4 separate regions of the Homo sapiens genome follow, and all the other regions are linked to region 1. The links come from fine-mapping of genetic effects on gene expression. A gene starts in region 1. Each other region holds a variant in brackets. All regions are shown on one strand. Distances are between the middles of the regions. Region 1 holds the start of RBM43 (RNA binding motif protein 43). Region 2 has its middle 72 kb from the start of RBM43. Region 3 has its middle 34 kb from the start of RBM43. Region 4 has its middle 47 kb from the start of RBM43.

Evidence for each region. PIP is the estimated chance that this variant, and not a neighbour inherited with it, causes the effect. A credible set is the group of variants that fine-mapping cannot tell apart.
Region 2: its variant is the best candidate, but not a certain one, in a credible set for the expression of RBM43 in CD4 T cells (Kasela 2017, PIP 0.82).
Region 3: its variant is the best candidate, but not a certain one, in a credible set for the expression of RBM43 in monocytes (TOPMed, PIP 0.58).
Region 4: its variant is the best candidate, but not a certain one, in a credible set for the expression of RBM43 in naive CD4 T cells (Schmiedel 2018, PIP 0.88).

What each region holds. Positions count from the first base shown.
Region 1 is chr2:151,258,699-151,263,853 of GRCh38, reverse strand. It overlaps RBM43 (RNA binding motif protein 43), which reads left to right and starts at 1,991. Exons shown (of 4, transcript NM_198557.3): 1 at 1,991-2,129. The coding sequence starts at 2,127. RefSeq lists an enhancer at 1,908-2,137 and a silencer at 2,178-2,447.
Region 2 is chr2:151,186,948-151,192,102 of GRCh38, reverse strand. No RefSeq gene overlaps it. Among named protein-coding and RNA genes, the nearest start is that of RBM43, 72 kb to the left of the region's middle. The variant CCT/T (reference allele first, on the strand shown) is at 2,819.
Region 3 is chr2:151,225,048-151,230,202 of GRCh38, reverse strand. No RefSeq gene overlaps it. Among named protein-coding and RNA genes, the nearest start is that of RBM43, 34 kb to the left of the region's middle. The variant C/T (reference allele first, on the strand shown) is at 2,012.
Region 4 is chr2:151,212,004-151,217,158 of GRCh38, reverse strand. No RefSeq gene overlaps it. Among named protein-coding and RNA genes, the nearest start is that of RBM43, 47 kb to the left of the region's middle. The variant C/T (reference allele first, on the strand shown) is at 3,067.

The DNA of each region.
Region 1 (5,155 bases):
TACTTGTTAAATTTCAGATGCTTGTTTGACATTCAAGTGGGCACTTAGATATATAAATCTGGAGATAAAATATAAATTGGGGAATTACATACAGATCTACCTCATGCTGTTTTTTTTTTTTTTCCTTCTTGAGATAGAGTCTTGTTCTCTCGCCCAGGCTGGAGTGCAGTGGTGTGATCTTGGCTCACTCTGCCTCCCGGGTTCAAGCGATTCTCTAGCCTCAGCCTCCCGAGTAGCTGAGATTACAGGTGTGTGCCACCACGCCCGGCTAATTTTTGTATTTTTAGTACAGACGGGTTTCACCATGTTGCTCAAGCTGGTCTTGAATTCCTGAGCTCAAAATGATCCGCCCACCTTGGCCTCCCAAAGTTCTGGGAATACAGGCGGGAGCCACTTCCCCCTACCTCATTCTGTTTTAAAATCTTCATAGCCTTGTGCCTTACTGATATATCATCAGCCGTATAACAAATAGCTCCATCCAATGATAAACTAGGTGGATCCCAGTTTATAAAAAAATTATTACTACCTGTATTTCAAGCAATGTACAACTAAAATTTCTATACAATATCTTAGTGCCATTTGCGCACTATAACTTCAAGTTCAGTTCTAAAAGTAGAATTGCTGAGACTAAGAATATGTGCATTTTACATTTTTTTGCACTTTACATTTTGATAAAAATCTTTAGAAGTATTTGCATCCATCTATGCTTGCAGCAACTCTGATGCTTACATTCAGGCTAACACTTTCTGGTTTTGCAGATCTAGTTGTGAAAAATGGTATCTTATTATTTCAATTTACATTTCTTAGGAGTGGGATTGGGTTTCTTCATATCTGCTAGCCATCTACCTTTGTTCTTCATGCATTCATTGATTTGATTTTGAAGTTTGTCCAGAGATTCCCTGTGTCCCCACAGGCGCCATTCGGGGTTCCTGTGCTAAGGCATGGACAAGGTGGTGAGCTCTCTGCTGGCAGGGACCTGGCGCTCTCATCCTGTGTCCTTAGCACCCGGCAGAGGTCCAAGAGGGCTCCTGGTCTGGGCTGGGAAGGTGACCAACACGGCGTTGGGGGTTGAGGTGGGGGTTGGGGAACTGGGGTAGGTTGTGCAGAGGAAAAGGCCCAGGTGAGCGGTGGGGGAAGGGGAAGAAGTCTGGACAGATAATAAGGGCGTAGGAAAGACATCCAGATTTCACTGAGTGCAGGGCTTTTTAAAACTGATGTTAGAAAAACTTGATTTGCTGTTGTAAAAAACCATCTGTGTGAAGTAGAAATTGATATCAATAACATGATAGAGAATACGTTCTAAAAAGTAAAGGTAGCTGGATGTAAAATTCTGGCAGAAGTTTAATATCCTAGATGGTTAGTTTGAGGCCAGCAACTAATGAGGATAAAAGCCTTCTCCATGGAAAATTTTGGACAGTTATCTGGAGAAATATTACAGTGCGCATCAACCAAATTGAAATGTTTTCAAAAGTGTTGTAAAGTTTCATGTAGTAAAAAGGTTTTAGCCACATGCCCTTCAATTTCATGGCATCGAATATATAAACACAGAAGAGAGCATGCATGCAAGATATTTAACTCCCTTACATGATAATGCATGCGATTCAAAACTATCATGACATCTAGGGCTCTCTGCAACTACGAGATGATTGATGTTAGGAAAAGCGTAGCCCCCCAGTATCAACACAGGAAGCGGCCACCACCTACTATGTGTTTTCCCTTTTTGCGTTTTTTCTTTTTTTAAATCAACTCTGCCGTTGTTGCTGCTGCTTAGCAAAACGGGTAAAAACAAAATTGCAATCACTGATGCATCACCCAGAGAATTCCCAAATTTCCTGTCGAGGAATCCTCTCGGCCTCTCTCCAGAGTGCTTCCACAAGTTGCAAAACTACGGAGGGCGTCTGGGCAGGCGCTGGCAACAGCACTCCTGAGTCCGAGCTCCCACTCAGAGGCCACGAGGTCGCAGAACAGCCGGATCGGGTGGAAGGACCGCCCTTTTCTTCGTAGCCTCCAAGGGAGCTGGAACAAAAAACGAAACCAAAACCTGCCTGCTCGCTCCTCTCCCCATCGCCTGCGTTCCGCTGGTTGTGGGCTTTCTGCGGCCGCTGAGGGCGCGTCTCCCCTCCGCCATGGCAAGTTGCTTTTGCTTTGGGTTTTGCGGTGCAGGTCCGTGCCTGTACCGTCGCCATGGTCCCCTAGAAGGGCGCGGAACCGGGCGCGACGGGCCAGGGTGCAGGGCTGCGCGGGAGGGGGCGGCGCACGGAGGGGCCCCAGGGACCCCGGGGGCCCCGGAGAGCCGTCCACCCCGGCGGGCAAACTCAGGTCAGCCTCGCTGCACCCTTCCCAGGTGGCGGCATTGCGCGCTCCTGAAATTCACGTACGGCGGTGCAGTATAGGCCCGCTCCAGAGGCTCAGGACTAGGCTGTCACCTCCCACACCCACTGCCCAGGCGACGGGGACGCCGCCGTTCGTCGAGGAGCTGCTTCGCAGGCTGTTAGGGCTTAACTGTTGTCCTCCCACGCCTCGGGGGGAACAAAAGTGGCCTGATTAGCCAGAAATGGAGGTCACAGCTGCCTTTTGAAAAGGGCTAATAAGAACGATTCGAGCCAAGGACGCAAGTCAGGAAGACATCCTCATGTCTTATGTCTGCCTTGGTGCGAATTCTTGTCTTAGCAAATTCAAAATTTATCCTTCTGTGTTTTGTTTTGTTTCCATCAATCGCTTAAAAGCCTTGGCAAGGCCTTTAATTCCTGCTCTGAAATGCTAGAGTCCCGGAAATGCAAAAGCAAGTACGTTTTTGTTGACCTGGTGGCGGTAGAGGCGTCGTCATTGAAAATAAACAACTGATTTTGAGAAAATCAATATAAACAAATGCAGTCAATGAATCTTCTGTTTCTTCCCAATGCCTTACTTACAAAAGTAAAGTTTTGCTATATACTTTTTGCTTTCTGATAAGATGGCCAAGTCTGTTATAACACAATACTGATGCAAGGAAATGCGCCATCACGTTAGTATGTCTTGGCTAAAAGCTGCTCGTTTCAAAGTCCTTGAAAGGACTGTCTTTCTCTAGGCATTTCTTTATCTTAATCGTGGGTAGAAGAGATGAACAACCCTCATTATTCATAATTGACCTCAGTAAAATTATCTATGTTAGCCATACTTTCTCCAACCTATGAAAGGGAGTTAAGGACAAATATTGGCAAGTCATTGAAGTACTAATTCATTAGATGATTCATAGAAACTAGTTCTTACCAAACAAAATTTACATCTTTATGTTTTTTTCTTCTAAAAATACTGGTTCAGGGAGAAGTTTCTTTGATTTTAAAGATAAATTACCAGTAGACATTCGAATAAAGAAATATGGTATTAGTACTAATGAGGGCATAGAGCTGAAGTAAGATTTCCTGAGTTTAAATTGATTGCATGTTTTTCTTTGATATTGTTGGGGTGCAGAAAATGATCTCCCTGCCCGGCACGGTGGCTCACGCCTGTAATCCCAGCACTTTGGGAGGCGAAGGAGGGCGGATCACTTGAGGTCAGGAGTCTCTACTAAAAATACAAAAATTAGCTGGGCGTGATGGCATCCACCTGTAGTCTCAGCTACTGGGGAGGCTGAGGTGGGAGGATCACTTGAGCCCAGGAGGCGGAGGTTGCAGGGAGCCAAGATCACGCCATTGTTCTCCAGCCTGGGCAACAGAGCGAGGCGCTGTCTAAAAAAAAAAAAAGACTTCGAGAGGCCGAGGGGGGAGCGGATCACGAGGTCAGGAGTTTGAGACCAGCCTGGTCAACATGGTGAAACCCCATCTCTACTAAAAATACAAAAATTAGTCGGGCATGGTGGCTGATGCCTGTAGTCCCAGCTACTCAGGAGGCTGGGGCAGGAGAATCGCTTGAACCCGGGAGGTGGAGGTTGCAGTGAGCCAAGATCGCGCCACTGCACTCCAGCGTAGGTGACAGAGCTAGACTCCATCTCAAAACAAACAAACAAACAAAAAACAAGAAAAGAAAAAGATCTCCCAAAAGAAATAAAAACAAATGCAGTGAGTGAATCTTCTATTTCTCCCTAGTGCTTCACTTAGAAAAATAAAGTTTTTCTTTATGCCTTTTTTGCTTTCTGATATGATGGCCCTGCCTTTATTCTTACATTGACAGGGTTGAGCATTTCTGTTTTTTTGTAACCATATTTAAATTTTCAATGTTTTTATTTTTATTTTTTTTGAGACAGAGTCTCACTCTGTCACCCAGGCTGGAGTGCAGTGGTGCGATCTTGGCTCACTGCAACCTCCACCTCCTGTGTTCCAGCCATTCTGGTTCCTCAGCCTCTGGAGTAGCTGGGATTACAGGCGCCTGCCTCCACTAATTTTTGTATTTTTAGTAGAGATGGCGTTTCACTATGTTGGCCAGGCTGATCTCGAACTCCTGACTTCAAGTGATCTGCCCACCTCATCTTCCCAAAGTGTTGGGATTACAGCCGTGAACTACTGCACCTGGCCTTTTTTAAGACTTAGCAGGTTTGGTCTAAAGGTGAAAAACCGATAATAATGTAAACAGTAAATATTGTTTATAGCAGGTCCCAATAGTGTGCTATGATTACTTTTTCTCCTTTTGGTCCAGTGTTATGTGTATTTTTCCTTTTCCACTTCTAGGAAAATGTTCCCAGCAAATGGGTCAAATGGATTTTCTTTCTTTCTTTCCTTTCTTTCTTCCTTTTTTTTTTTGGGGACGAAGTCTCCCTCTATTGCCCAGGCAGGCTGGAGTGCAGTGGTGCTCACTATAACCTCTACCTCCCAGGTTCAAGCCATTCTCCTGCCTCAGCCTCCCAAGTAGCTGGGACTACAGGCATGTGCCACCACGCCCAGCTAATTTTTGTAGTTTTAGTAGAGTTGGGGTTTCACCATGTTGGCCGGGCTGGTCTCGAACTCCTGACCTTAGGTGATCTGCCCGCCTCATCCTCCCAAAGTGCAGGGATTACAGGTGTGAGCCACCGTGCCCGGCCTGCATTCCATAATTTACTTAAAATCATGCAAGTACTTTAGTTTTCTTATGATTTTTAGGCTGGGGCCCCTTCAAATCCCAGAAATGGGAGAGAACTTGCTCTGGGATATACATGCTAGCAGGTTCTCTCTGAAGTGTTCATTCAGGCATTTTTTGTTTTTGA
Region 2 (5,155 bases), 72 kb after region 1:
ATAAAACTTAAAAAACTTAACAGTTTTATGGGGGGCTGGGGCTGGAGCAGGGGTCTTTCATGATTCTTTCATCTTTTAAGTTGCCTCCTTCCGTTCAGATGGACAACTGACTGTTCCCCTGGCAGCTTTTGCCAGGCTTATAGGAGCCAGTCACCTGGGAGGCCGTGTCTTTCATGAGAGAATCAGCATTCTCTAGACCTTCTGTTTTTCATGTCCTTTTTCTGTTCCTTTGAAAAGAGACATAAGGAAGCAGGAAAGCTGGATTTTGGTCTTGGTTCTACCTTAGATGGCTGCCTGATTTGAACCAATCAGTTGGTGTTTCCGGGTCTCCTTTCTAATCAGTAAAATGAGAAGAGTAGGCTTAATGATCACTAAATTTGCATCTGGTAGTGCAATTTTAAAAAACGAAAATAATTTTGAAAGTCCATTTTTGAAAATGCCACCAAATCATGAATTTCTCTATTCATATTCACATGCTAACTATCAAGGACATGTGTTGTGCTTTTATGAAGGCAAAAAATGGCTTGGAACTTTTGGGAAACTTCTATTTAGTAGAGCTAAACGATTCATGTCATGTCCAGTAGTGGCAAACTGCATTCTTGAGTAATGGTGGAATATATTTTCTCAGGTGAAAGCTTAAATTCAGTTCTACTGGGGCTTAATTAAGCAATACTGTCTGAAGTCATGAGCAATTCTGTGAATAAAATCGCTGAAGAAATAGAAATGCCTCAGAATGCAATGCTGGTCTATAGCATTTGAGACATGATCTGGTTTAGTTTGTTTGAATTCTTACATTGGAAGGCAATTCAGGGCTCTCTGTTGAATGGAGCAGGGGTGAATCCCAATGGCCTTGCCCTGTTGCAAAGAGCTAGGGAAGTTTATTTTATTTCTGGACTATTGGGTGAAATCCTGAAACCAATTTTCTGCTGGAAATTGTGTGTATCCTTCTGGCAACAAGCTGCCTGAGCAGCGAGCTGTCACATTTCAATGCAGAAGCCTTTTGTTTGGCAATGAGATAATTTTAGTTCTTATGCTATTAGGAATGTATTTAGAAATTCAGCATAAATGCTTTTGGAGTATACTGGGCTATTCATAGGGGAGCTAAGGTCCAGGGCAAATCATAGTATATTTTCTTTTCCTACTTTCTCATCTGCCCCTCCTTTCAAATGCCAAGTTTTGATGTAGTAAAAAGAATACCAAGGGCAACCTTGAAAAGTGGTTCCTAAAGCACAGTATGTGCAGAGTGCAGGGAGGTACACAGCAGCATCCATTCCTTACCTTACTAATGGAGGAGGTGGAAGAGCTATCTGAAAGCTGAATCTGTACATAGGTTGTTGCGGTTTTCTTGACACCTACTGGCTTTTGCACTAGTAAGCTTTATTAGCTTTTTCAGATTTAAACATCTAAGATACTAAGACAAACTGGACATGTTGTAAAGGATGTGTTGAGATTTGAATTGCTCATAGGTCCATGAGGACAGATAATCCAATCCTGTTTATTGTATTTCATTTTTTTTTAGAGACAGGGTCTTTCTATGTTGCCCAGGCTGGAGTACAGTGGCTATTCACAGATATGATCATAACTCACTGCAGCCTTGAACTACTGGGTTCAAGCAATCCTCCTGCCTCAGCCTCCTGCACAGCTGGGACTTACAGGTGCACACCACCATGCCCAGCTTAAATCCTGTTTATTTTTATCTTTAATTTTATTTATTTTATTTTATTTTTTTGAGACGGAGTCTCGCTCTGTCGCCCAGGCCGGACTGCGGACTGCAGTGGCGCAATCTCGGCTCACTGCAAGCTCCGCTTCCCGGGTTCACGCCATTCTCCTGCCTCAGCCTCCCGAGTAGCTGGGACTACAGGCGCCCGCCACCGCGCCCGGCTAATTTTTTGTATTTTTAGTAGAGACGGGGTTTCACCTTGTTAGCCAGGATGGTCTCGGTCTCCTGACCTCATGATCCACCCGCCTCGGCCTCCCAAAGTGCTGGGATTACAGGCGTGAGCCACCGCGCCCGGCCTATCTTTAATTTTTATAGTGTAAATTATCCATTTGTTCTTATGTGCTACAAGAATGATATTTAAACATTTTCCTAATATCATTGTGTGCTTCTTCATTGCTTATGCAAGGAAAAGGAGACATGAGTAATAAGGAGACACCATGTTTAAGTGGCTTAAATGTCTTCTTAACGTTGAGCTTTGTGTAGAATGTAACCTGAACAGAATGATGGTGTCTTCTGTCTTTTCCATGAAATTTCTGTTCACTTAAAATTTTTTTTTATGTACCAACAAAGACCAAACTGCAGCGTTTTCTTTACATTTTCTTATATTTGTTCTGTTCACCTAACCTTTCACGAACGCTTTTGAGTTCAATGGAGCATATAATTATTACATCATATAGAAATAGTTGGGGGAAACAAATGGCATAGTGCAAAAGATATAATTTATGGAGGGAAGTCATCCAGAAAAAACTGTAAGGAATGTTTAATTTATTTTAAACCTCTGAATACCATTGCCTTTTTCCCTTTCAGTTGTCCACATTACATTCTTTGTGTGACACAGGAAAAATTATTAAATACACATCTATATAAAAATCCAACAGTGGTTGCTATAAAAATTAAGATGTTGTAATTTTAATGACAATAGGAAACCAGCAGAAATTTAAGGCATTTACTTCCTTGATTAAAGTATATGACTATACCTAGAGTCAAGTTATTCTCATTTGTCAGCAGCTGAAATGACTTCCTGTGTTCCTCAATTTTAGAAAGATGCAAAGGTGAGATCCCAGCCTTAGAGAGAACTAGCAGGAAGTGGTTCGCGCG[CCT/T]GTGTGTGTGTGTGTGTGTGTGTGTGTGTGTGTGTATGGTGGTAGAATGGAAATACTACTGATATTTTGATGCTAATTTTATCCCCAAACCAGATCTATAGCATACATGGCTGTAGTGGTATAAAAATAATGCACTTACACAAGCATACTTACCATATGTGTATTTGTGTTTGTGTATATGTGCATAAACATGTATGCATACCTTGTAAATTTGTGAATAGTATACTTATTTTGGAATTAGGATTTTAAAAATAAGCAGATATAGAGTATAGTAATATGGGGAAGCATCATTTTGAAAGATTTACTTGAATATTTAGGTTTTTGGCTTCTATTAAATCTCCGTGCCTATCTATGGGTTTTCTCATCTTTTAGCTCAGCAGCTGTCAACACTGGATTCAACAGAATCACCTGGGTAACTTAAAAAAAAAAATTCTAGTGCCCAGACTCCATCCCCAGAGATTCTGATTTAATTGGTTTGGGAGTAGGATTGGGCATTGGTGATTTTTAAAAGCTCCCTTGGTGATTCTAGTGTGCAGGTAGGGTCGACAGCAACTGCTTTAGCCATGTGTTGACAAGCAATCCCTGGCAGTACCTAACGACAGTTATTTGGTGATCCTGAGTTTGCAGATATTTTTCCTGACTCGTTGTGGTTGTTGCTGGAACCCAGAGATGCTGAGGCCTTTGAAAGGGCACCATCTATAGCTTCAGGCAAAACACCCAGGAAGAACAAAGCAAGTGAAAGGATTGAGGAGGACCTAAAAGTTGGGCAATTTGCACAAGATTAAAAACCTTAGTGGAGTCAGGACTTGAACCCAGGTCTTCTATAGTGATGTGGTTGAGGGTCAGGGCTCTGGAGTCAGACTGTTGGCTTGGATGTGTTGGCTCCTACAGTAACTAGCTGGTTGAGGGATGATGGGCATGTTATTTTTTTGTCTGCCTGGTAAAGATTTGTTACCTCTCAGTTCCTGAGCCAGTGATGTTTGGGAAAGAAAAATATAGCATTAGTGTCAGTCTTATGTAGCAGGTTTTAGCTACTTAACCTCTCTTGGCCAATGTTTTCTCACGCCTGAAATCCCAGCACTCTGGGATGCCAAGGCAGGTGGATCACAAGGTCAGGAGTTCAAGACCAGCCTGGCCAAGATGGTGAAACCCCATCTCTATTAAAAATACAAAAATTAGCTGGGTGTGGTGGCAGGCGCCTGTAATCCCACTTACTCGGGAGGCTGAGGGAGGAGAATTGCTTGAACCGGGGAGGTGGTGAAAGTTGCAGTGAGCCGAGATCATGTCACTGCACTCCAGCCTGGGCGACAGAGCAAGACTCTGTCTCAAAAAAAAAAAAAAAAAAAAAAAGGAGCTAATTATTATGATGCCTACTTCATAGGTTGGGTGGATAAGAGGATTAAATGAGGTAACAAATGTGAAACCACTTGTGACTGTACCTCACACATAATATCTCCTCAATACATGTGAAATATTATTAATTTTTATTACCTGACTACATTTTATTCTCTATTATACTGTACTCAGATTCTTCAACTCAACGTGATCGAAATGATGGATGAGCCTTCCATCTTCTTTGATAACAGTTCCTTGTATGACTTCAGTTGTCTTTTCTTCTAAGCCAACTATAGATGTAAAGAATAAATCTCTATTGCTTATTTTTAATTATGTCCTAGAAATAAAAAAGGGGCTATATGTAAATAGCATTAAAGTAGATCCATATACAGATCTATTTTATATGGATACAGATCCATATAAAAATGGAATTTTGCTGTAATAATCATAGCTATTATATGGTATTTACTATGTTCCAGGTATAATTTTAAATGTTTTACATAAAATATTTAAAAAACTTTTTGTTATAAAAAATTCCAAAACTACACAGGGGTGCCTGTGTATGTATAGTACATGAACCTCTATATACGCACAATTCTTTTTTTTTTTTTTTTTTTTTTTGAGACAGGGTCTTGCTCTGTTACCCAGGCTGGAGTACAGTGTTGCCATCATGGCTCTGTACAGCCTCAACCTCCTAGGCCCAAGTGGTCCTCTCACCTCAGACACCCAAGTAGCTGGGACTTACCTGCAGGAGTCTACCACCATGCCCAGCTAATATTTGTAGTTTTTTTGACAATTCATTTTTAACTATTATCCACTCATGGACAATTTTGTCTATACCCTTGTACCCCAACTTTCTTGATATCATAGACACTTTTCTCTAAGTAGTTCAATGTGCTTCTCAAAAACATAAAGAACTTTAAAGAAAGATACTCACAATACCATTACTACACATAAATGTAGCCCTTATAAAAACTTTATGCATTAAGTAGTATTATTA
Region 3 (5,155 bases), 34 kb after region 1:
GCTAGACATCTTCAATGGCTTCCTACTTCTTCCCACACAAATTCATATTTATTTTAGTGTTTTTAAGGCCTTTTATATTTGGAGTCCCTTCTTTCTAATTTCAGCCCTCACTTCTTCCTTGCATTTAACCTCTGTTGTGATAGGGTAGTCTTTGTATATTTAGTCAAACTTCTGTGCCAGCTCTCTCACTGGGAATGTCTTTTCTTTGATCCATAAAAATCCTACTCATTATTTAAGGTTCATGCTGAAATCTTGCCTCTTAACTGAGACTTCTCATGGAACTCTGTCCTCTTTGGTTTCTTTCTTCATGATCTTCTAAGGCATTTATGGTTTTTGTACAAAACTTATTATATATATGTTTATATATACAATATTAGTTTTTTTACTATTACTTCACTTGTGTTTTCCTTGCCTCCTCATTTTATTTATAAACTCTTTGAAAGCAGAAAAAAAGTCATATGTATTTTGCTATTAAATCACCCTTAGCATGGTTTTAAGCTTATGGTAATGCCAAATAAAATATTTGCTCACTGCCTCATTGGGAGCTCTTTCAGTAGGTCCATGGTTTTCAGAGACTTTCACTTAGAATATGGGAAAATAGAGCCCAGACTTGCCATCTACTGAAGAAACAGAAGGGGATTTTTTATGTACCCATTCTGTAATCCACTGTAAAGCTATTCTTCTTCATTTGCATTTTAAGATCTATGATTTATAATCTTTATAACCAAACTTTTTCAACATTGTGATAAAAGCTAACTGGCACCCAGTGCATCCATTATCCCAAGTGACTTCACTTTGTGGTCTAGTGCTTGGTTTGGTCCTATGTCCTTGTGGTTTATAGAGGACTCTGTTGCCTCTCCTGAGCTCAGTTGGGTTCCAGGGATGAATAGCCATCATAAAAGTTTCCTGCTAGGCTTAGTCCACTTCACTCCTGCTGTGGGTAGTTTTTTTGTGTGGGTACTAAACATTGTGCTGAGTATTTTACATGTAACATCTCATTTACTCATTTCATTATACTTGAGGATAATTCAGGGAGTAGGTTTGGGTTAAGTAAAGGGATATAAAGTTGTTCAATTCTGTGTTCAATGATTCTTCTTGAGATGTTATGGCATAGCTCAGTAACAAAAGGAATTCTTCTGGACAGTTTTCATTTTGGCCCAATGCCTGAAAGGTAACTACTACATGTTTCATCACAGTATGGAGGGCAGTGAGTCAATTGTTTCTTGAATTTTAGAACACTCAGCTATCTTGCCATTCAAACAACTGACTCTATCCAGTAAGTTCCAGTGTTTTCTAGAGGGTGCTGAATATTCTTATCTTTTTAAAATTTAGATGTGGGTCTCTTTCTTATTGGGGTTGGGGCCAAATGGAAGGATAGATTTGGTTGCTTAAGCCATTGAAGTCTGATTACAAATTGAATGTGACAAGTAAGACTGCCAGTCTAGAAGTTATAACCAAAAGCAACCCTCCCAGTTTTTCCTAATGCTATATATGTTTTTTTGTGTATATTTTTCTATGCTCAGTATTTATGGTGATCAGAAAAACAAGTCATATTATCTGACACATCATACATCAAGATATTTGCAAACATGCTAACCATTTCAACAGAAGTTAGAATTTTATGTACAATATGGTATCTTTTTGTAGTTCTGGGCTCAGCTATGAAAATCTGTTCCATTCTTGTAGTTTTCTGAAACTAAAATTTTGACTCTTTCTAGACTATGGCAGAGTGTATGTGAATGACAAAGTAAATCCTCTCATTTTGTAATTTTGGACTTAAATTTTTGGTCTCATGTTTAAAGTCTCTTCCATGATCTATGTAAGTGAGTGGATAAATGAAAGAGCATATTCATTGGTATCTTCCACAGGGGCCTCTCTGGCCACTCTTTAGGATGACCAGGTACTTATAATGAGGCCCTATGTATGAAGAGCCTTTCATGCAAGGTGATTTTTGGAGGGCTTGAACACAGAGACAAGGCCTTTCTCAAACTTACAAGAATAAACTATGTGG[C/T]TTTTTTGTCTGTTTGCTTGCTAGTAATTATTGGTGCATTTTGGTATAATTTTGTCTAAGACTTGTTTTCATTATAATATGCCACCAGGAAGGAAATTGTGGGGTAGTGGAAGATGCCCCCACCTACTTCTGATTGTGAATCTATCAAGGAGGCTTTCAACATTTACCAAAAAACCCCCGATAATTGCTAAATAGACAGTTTGGCTTAGGTCAGTTTGCAATACTGAACCTGGCAGAAAGGTATTATTATTATTGCTTTCATCTTATGTATATACCTAATACACTTAAATGAATATGCTGAAGCTCATAAAATTAAGTGACTGGTCAGTGACAGAGTTAGGCTGTCAGAGGTATTTGTATTTGCTCTTTATCTTTATGCTAAACAATTGAGTTATGTTTATATTCACCCTGGATAATTGGCAATTATATGAAGAATATAACCTGCCATATAGAGTAGGGCAAGAAAATGTTAGAAGACTTAATAGTACTGAAACAAAAACGGCTTCTCTTTTGGAGTTAGCAGCACTTAGAAGCATGGCACATATTTTGCACATTAAGTAGGCCTATTTTGTCTCTTATTCCTGTTGCTATGGAAGAGAAAATACGTAGGAAGGAACTTATTGATTTCCTATAAGGCAAACTCACTAGTGGAATTTTGCCTGAAAGGGACTCTATTGCCCAAATCTCACAAGGTGAGAAGCCGTTATTGACCCAATATCATGAAGACATAAGAGAAGTTGGCTTGTGTAGATAATGTAGTTACTGACATAGAAATTGATTCCTGGACACACACACACACACACACACACACACACACACACCCCTCACATACACAGACATCTTTATATTCTATAAAGCTATTTTGATTCATTTCAATCAATTCATTTTTCTCTATGTTGATGTCTCAAATTATGGACTATTTTACATATTATTTTAGCCAGAAATAGCTGTCTTCAAAGAATATAAATATTGACTATAATAAAATGCCAGTATGTAGCTTCTACATTTATATTAATTTTGATAGATATTAAATGATAATATCATTTAATGATATTATTAATAATATCTCGGCTCACTGCAAGCTCTGCCTCCTGGGTTCACGCCATTCTCCTGCCTCAGGCTCCCGAGTAGCTGGGACTACAGGCGCCTGCCACCACGCCCGGCTAAATGATATTATTAATGATAATATCATTTAATAGCAATTTACATTGGGGTATCACTTTCAGTGAAATTTATAAAACACTTCACATAGCAAAATAAAACATTTGTCTCTTAAGGGTAAATACTGATGTCTGATTTATACTCTGTGAACAAAATATTAGACAGCCATCTGCATCACTATAGATTATGGAAGATTAGAGTAATAAAAAACTACGTTTTAGAAAAAGTGCAGCAGTGCAAAATGCTCATCTTAAATTTTTCTTACTAGCTGGTAAACTCATCTCAGCTAGGGAACATCTTTAATCACCATGAAATAAATAAATAAATCTCTGCTGTTACTCATCTTGCAGCACAATACATACAGTTGTCCATGTAACAAGCAGCCCTATTGCCATCCAATGCATGTATTATTTATACTGCTTAACTTTAGGATTTCTAATTTGTGGCTCATGTATGAAACCATAGTTTATTTTCTCTGTTCCAAGAATCCTGATATATATGAGGTATTTTTTTAAGCTATTAATCAACTTAGTATCTTATGCTTCAGTTTCTGCTGTTTTTTAAGAGTGATAGTTTGTGTTTTGGATGTGCTCCCCAGGTTCTCTTTAAACACACTTGATGACACTATCACACAGCTTACTTTTTATATCTAGGTGATTTCAAATATAACTGCATATTTGATAAGTATTTGATTGGGTCTTTTGTGCTTGACATAGTAATAAAAAAACTAGATGGAAATTTAATTCTTTATATAAAGTAGAAAATGAGGAATAGGAACCGATATACAAAAACAAAGCAAGTGATAATCTTCAACTCTGTTGTGGAACTGTGCAAAGCTAACTCTAAATTTAGCAGAAACGTAAAGTTCTATCCTTGGGTTCAAACAGCAACTTGCATAGGTAAAGGTTGGGGGTTATGTAACTTTTTTTTTTTGAGACAGTCTCGCTCTTGCCCAGGCTGGAGTGCAGCGGCGCCATCTCGGCTCACTGCAAGCTCTGCCTCCCGGGTTCACGCCATTCTCCTGCCTCAGCCTCCCAAGTAGCTGGGACTACAGGCGCCCGCCACCACGCCCGGCTAATTTTTTTTGTATTTTTTAGTAGAGACGGGGTTTCACCGTGTTAGCCAGGATGGTCTTGATCTCCTGACTTTGTGATCCGCCCACCTCCGCCTCCCAAAGTGCTGAGATTACAGGCGTGAGCCACCGCGCCCGGCCGGGGGGATATGTAACTTAAATAGAGTAAAGTAGATATTATGGTTGTCTAACATTCATTGGACACTTCTTCTCTTGTGTAGCTGCCATATGGTTTAGGTGAGCCCCAGAAGTGGGACCTAAGCCAATGGGGTAATAGAGGTTCTATGTCATCTGCCCCAACGATTGGTTCAGGTGACCCAGGCTTTAGCCAATTATTGCTTGTGTTTCTCCAACCGCAAGGACTGGTTCTGAGGTGGTCCAAATACCAAGTAGCTCAACACTTTTGATCAATGATTGTGGAACTTCTCTGTCTCCAAGAGGGAACAAGAATGCATATGGCCTTATATTGCTGCTGCAAATGATCTTGCCTCCGTGAGAAAAGTTAACTGGAGGACAAAGCCAGCACATGATGGGAAAATTACAGAGAAACAGGGTGAGGCAGCGCTTGAACTATATCAGTTCACATTATTTCTGGACTTTTCAGTTACTTGAAGCAAGCTTCCTTTGTAGATTTAGTTAGTTTGAATTGGATTTTTCTGTTTTATTAAAAATTATGTATTTATTTTTGTTAAAAAACTTAAAATAATACAAGTATCATATCTGGAAAAAACCTAGAGAGGATTTCTGGGATTAGAAAATAGTAAATTGAGCTAACGAGATTACCCATCTGCTACAAAAACTTTAATATACTGGAAAAAATATTTTAAAACAACCAGAAATAAGGAGAGACTGAAAGCCTCAAGTATAAGTTTTTAGGGGAATGGCATCACCATCTGGAGCTCTATATCTGA
Region 4 (5,155 bases), 47 kb after region 1:
CAGTCTCTCCTTCTGCCTTATGTCCCTCAGGTGAATTCTTTGTTCTGAGAAGCCAAGAATTGAGGTTGCTGCAGCCCCGTATGGATACTTTCCACTGATAACAACATGAGGGATGAGAAAATTAGAATATTCTAGCATTACTAATTTGCTTTATTATACACAGAATCATCTCAGAATACTAATACTAATACAACCACTGCCAATATGATCAGAGAAAAGACTTAGTTTTGTTGTAACTATTGTCTGTGGCTTTTGGTTTTGCTGTATATTTGTTTTGTCTGTTTTCATGTGACGATTTGGGGGGATTCAAATCTATGCTACTGTTCCTATAGCAGCATATGTTCCAAATCCCCTTTTGAAAAGTGGTGAAATATTCTTCCCTGGATAATTAAACATACACAAAGAGTAGTCCAATGGGCTGATGACTGTTTAATTTAGTCTAGGATGCGCTTTGTTGTTCACTACTAAAGGCCATTGTAGTGAACTAAAAGAACATTGTAGTGTACTAAAGTCCACATGGTGGTCTCTTCTGGTTCATCCTACTGGGGATTCTAGAATAAGTTCAGTCAAGCTGCAATAGCAGTCAGAAGGTGTCTCTGGGGCTGTGATCAGTAGAGGGCCCCAGGCACCGCTTGTAGAGGCTTAATCTAGCTAATAATCTCTTTTTTTGAGACCCAGTTTCACTTGTTGCGCAGGCTGGAGTGCAATGGCATGATCTCAGCTCACTGCAACCTCTGCCTCCCAGGTTCAAGTGATTCTCCTGCCTCAGCCTCCCGAACAGCTGGGATTACAGGCGTGCACCACCACGCCCGGCTAAATTTTGTATTTTTATTAGAGGTGGGGTTTCACCATGTTGGCCAGGCTGGTCTCGAACTCCTGACCTCCAGTTTTCCACCTGCCTTGGCCTCCCAAAGTGCTGGGATTACAGGTATGAGCCACTGCACCCGGCTCAATAATCTTAAGCAACTCTTCAAAACTACCAACATAAATAAACAATCTAAGTCAAAACAGTGTGATTGCTATCAAAATGCAGATTAAGAACCGTACCCTACTGCCTCTTTTCAATCAGATTGCTTCTCTACACCCCTTCTATGTAGATTTTCTGGAGCTGGCACTTGCAATAGTGAACATGTACTGTTTTGGTTGCCCATCACCCATTTCCCTTACTTTGGCACACACACTAATTTCCTTTTGAAGAATTAACTCTCCCTCTGGAAATTTTCTTTTTGGGATTGTCTACCCACTAAGCAGGCAAGTGACTCCAGCTTGGTTAATCAGATGCTCCTGGAACTTCCAGTCTTGATTGGAGCAATGCAGAAAGGGTACGAGATGCTAGGAGATTATTCGTTCCAGTGATGGTAGGTGTGGAGAATGTTGATTAATTCCACTTGCTTTGGAGCTACCCTGATTCCTAACCTTTTTTCGACTTGTTTCTCTGGTATTGCTATCAATTTTGTATGTCCCCTGATATCTACCTAATATATTCATGTTCTGTTTAAAGTTGTTTGTTACTTGTGACCAAACAACTATCACTGATTTAGTGGTGATCTCTGGAGTACATAAGAAATCTTGTCTATTTTAATTGCAATACCTCTTCTAGCAGTTCTGATCCTCTTTCCCTGCTCTATTTAAAAAACACACACTTTATAACTTACTTATTGTGTTTATTGTCTATCTCTTTCACTAAAATATAAGCTCTATGAATGCAAGGATTCTTGATTTAAATGTGTTTCTTTGACTCGTGTATCCCAAATACCTATGACAATTAGTGGAACATAGTAGGTACTCAAGAAATATTTGTAAATTTAATAAAGTCTTTAAGCCACTGATTTGTGAATTTCTTGATGGTCTATATGGAGCAATGCTTAGTGCCCAGTTTGTTGTAAAACCTTGGCATGTTTTTGCTGCAGATGGTTTGGTATGTTATCACTGAGTGGGTTAGGAGAAAATGTAATAACATGAGGACAGTAACCAGCTGCTTTGCATCTCCAAGGGTATGAACAAAACTCTGGGCTCAGATGGTTAAAGTTCTACACAATTGTCCAGATCTTGATATCTAACCAAAGTCCATTTTACTTTTTAAGGGAAATTTTGGAAATATCAATAGTAAGGTAAAAGTAGATTTGATTAAATGACTCAAAAGTAATGCATTCATTTTTGAATTTTTTTAAAATTTAAAATTTGCACTTATTCCAACAAAATGACACAGCACCCAATTGAGACTGAATGTCGTAATCGGACAGCAGATCTCAAGGTGGCAAGTACAGCCAGTAGAGGATGGCTAGTGTGATTTGAATAATATTGTAGAAACTGAGCCCAGAATGAGGTTATTACCAGAATGTTACAGTTGCTAGTGGAAGGTAAATTGAACAACTAATATTGGAACGGAAAGAAGAGTATTTATTAAGCAAGCATTAAGTTTTACATGAGATTTACATATGTTATTTTACATATGACTTTCATATGTTTTTTTCACTTTATCCTCAGAAGAAGCCTATGTGTTAACATCTTCATTTTATAAACAGAGAAACTGATATGAGAAGCTAGTTAACTTGTGGTCACACAAGAAAATGGCAGATCCAGAATCTGGCTCACGTTGACTGATTCTAAATTTCTGATACTTTCCACTACATCACCTCCAACCAAGAAATTAGTTATTAAGTCTGAAATTATAGAAAACAAGCCAACTTTTCTGGGTAAAGATGGTGGATGAATATAGGCAATAGCTATCACCCTCTTGTCGAACCCTAAGCCCCTCTAATCTAAACTTTTTTTTTTTTTGAGACGGAGTCTTGCTCTGTCACCCAGGCTGGAGTACAGTGGTGCAATCTTGGCTTACTGCAACCTTCACCTCCCAGGTTTAAGCGGTCCTCCCACCTGCCTCCCACCAGCCTCCCAAGTAGCTAAGATTATAGGCGTGTACCACCAGGCTCAGCTAATTGTTTTTGTGTTTTTAGTAGAGGCAGGGTTTCTCCATGTTGGCCAGGCTGGTCGCAAACTCCTGACCTCAAATGAACCACCTGCCTCAACCTCCCAAAGTGCTGGGATTACAGGCATGAGCCCCTG[C/T]GCCCGGCCTAAACTTTTTTTTTTTTTTTTTTTTTAAGGCATAAACACTTGAGGACAAGAGAATGGGAGAGAAAATGAATAAAATTTTGAAAATTGATAAGTAGATGGGAAAGTGGTAATTGATTAAGCAGATCTGACATGACTGAATCCTCACTAAGCAGTGGAGAAAGTTGAGAAACAAATTGATTTACACTGAGTTGAATCCCTAAGGCTTAATTAGAGCGGATACCTCTGTAAGTGCAAAGAAAGTAGTCTGATTTCTTTCAGAAGCAGTTAAGCTCCCTAGGCCTGCGTCCCGATTCTACAGAGTTGTATGACGGCTTGCTCTTCCATCATCATGGAAGAAGATTGAAGCTATATTCCCAGGAAATGTAACATGGAAGGGGTAACGTAGAAAGGATTCCAAGCACAATTGAGGACAGGGGCCCATACTGAAGGCAGGGAAGAAGGTAAAATTTGTATACTCAATTCTGAAATCACTGAATCACTGTCTTTCCCTACAAACCTCACAGAAAGCCAGCAGCCAGTCCCATACCCTATAGGAGAGGAATTCGGATGATCATTCTCTGGGGAATCTCAGCAGCCCATGGCTTTCCAAGAGGAGAGACCTAATGACATTAACGCTAGGGATTCCTTAGGGAAATAGCTGTCCTCATCGCTTGGAACTGGAGCCCATGGCAAAACAGCCCCACCTTTGTGCTCAAAACTTCTAATCAACTTTTTAATAAATGTAAACAAATTTAATTGTGGTAAAAAAACACATGAAATTTTTCATCTTAACCATTTTTAAGTGTAGAGTTCAGTAAGTATTTCAGAATATTCACATTGCTGTGTGACAGATCTCCAGAACATTTTCATCCTGCAAACCTGAAACTGTATGCTTATTGAACAACTCCCATTTCCCCCTCTTCCCTGGAAACCACCACACTTCTGTTTCTATGAGTTTGACCACTTCAGATCTCTTGCATAAGTGGACTCATACAATATTTGCCCTTCTGTGACTGGCTTATTTCACTTAGCATAATGTCCTCAAGTTGCATCCTTGTTGTATAGCATGTGACAAGATTTCCTTTTTTATTTAATATAAAATATTCCAGGTTTTAATCGACTTGTAAAGCTTCACTCTTAAGTATGTACAGACAATCTGCAATTATCAGGCATCAGAGCAAAGCTTCTTGTATGTAGTAAACAACATAAAACACCAAACAACTCAGGGATAAGATAACTTTACAAAAACTATCACTTAAAACCTCAGAGAAGGCCGGTCATGGTGGCTCATGCCTGTAATCCCAGCATTTTGGGAGGCTGAGGCAGGCAGATTACCTGAGGTCAGGAGTTCAAGACCAGCTTGGCCAACATGGCGAAACCGCGTCTCTACTAAAAACACAAAAATTAGCTGGGCATGGTGGCGTGTGCCTGTATTCCTAGCTACTTGTGAGGCTGAGGCAGGAGAATCGCTTGAACCCGGGCAGTGGAGGTTGCAGAGAGCCGAGATCGCGCCACTGTACTCCAGCCTGGGCAACAGAAGGGACTCTATCTGAAAACAAAAACAAAAACAAAACAAAACCTCAGAGAATAGGAGATTCCATACAGGAAGCAAGAATAGAATAATTGTAACAAAAAGATCAGTAAAAACAAAAACAAAGAGTTGTTGGGAAAACCTGAAAGAATGGTTGAAATGTAAAGCTGAATAATTTCTCAGAAAGTGGAAAAAAGAGAAAAAGGATGAAAAATGAGAGAAAAAAGATAAGAAAATTAGAGCACAACGTCAGGAAACCTAAAATCCAAAATAATAGGAATTTTACAAAGAGAAAACAGATAAAATAGAGGAGAGGAATTCATCAACAAAATAATTACAAAAATTATGCAGAACTGAAGCACATGAATTTCTTGGTTGAAGGGTCCACCTCATTCACTGCACAATGGTGCAGCATGATGAAATCTCAGGACACCAGGGACAATAAGGGAACTCTACCAATTTTATTTTATGTTTTTTTTACAAAGAGAGATAAAAAAGAATTCAAAGTTAGAATGGCATCAATATTGCAACAGCAATGCTGGAAACTCTAAGATAATGGAGAAATGTCTT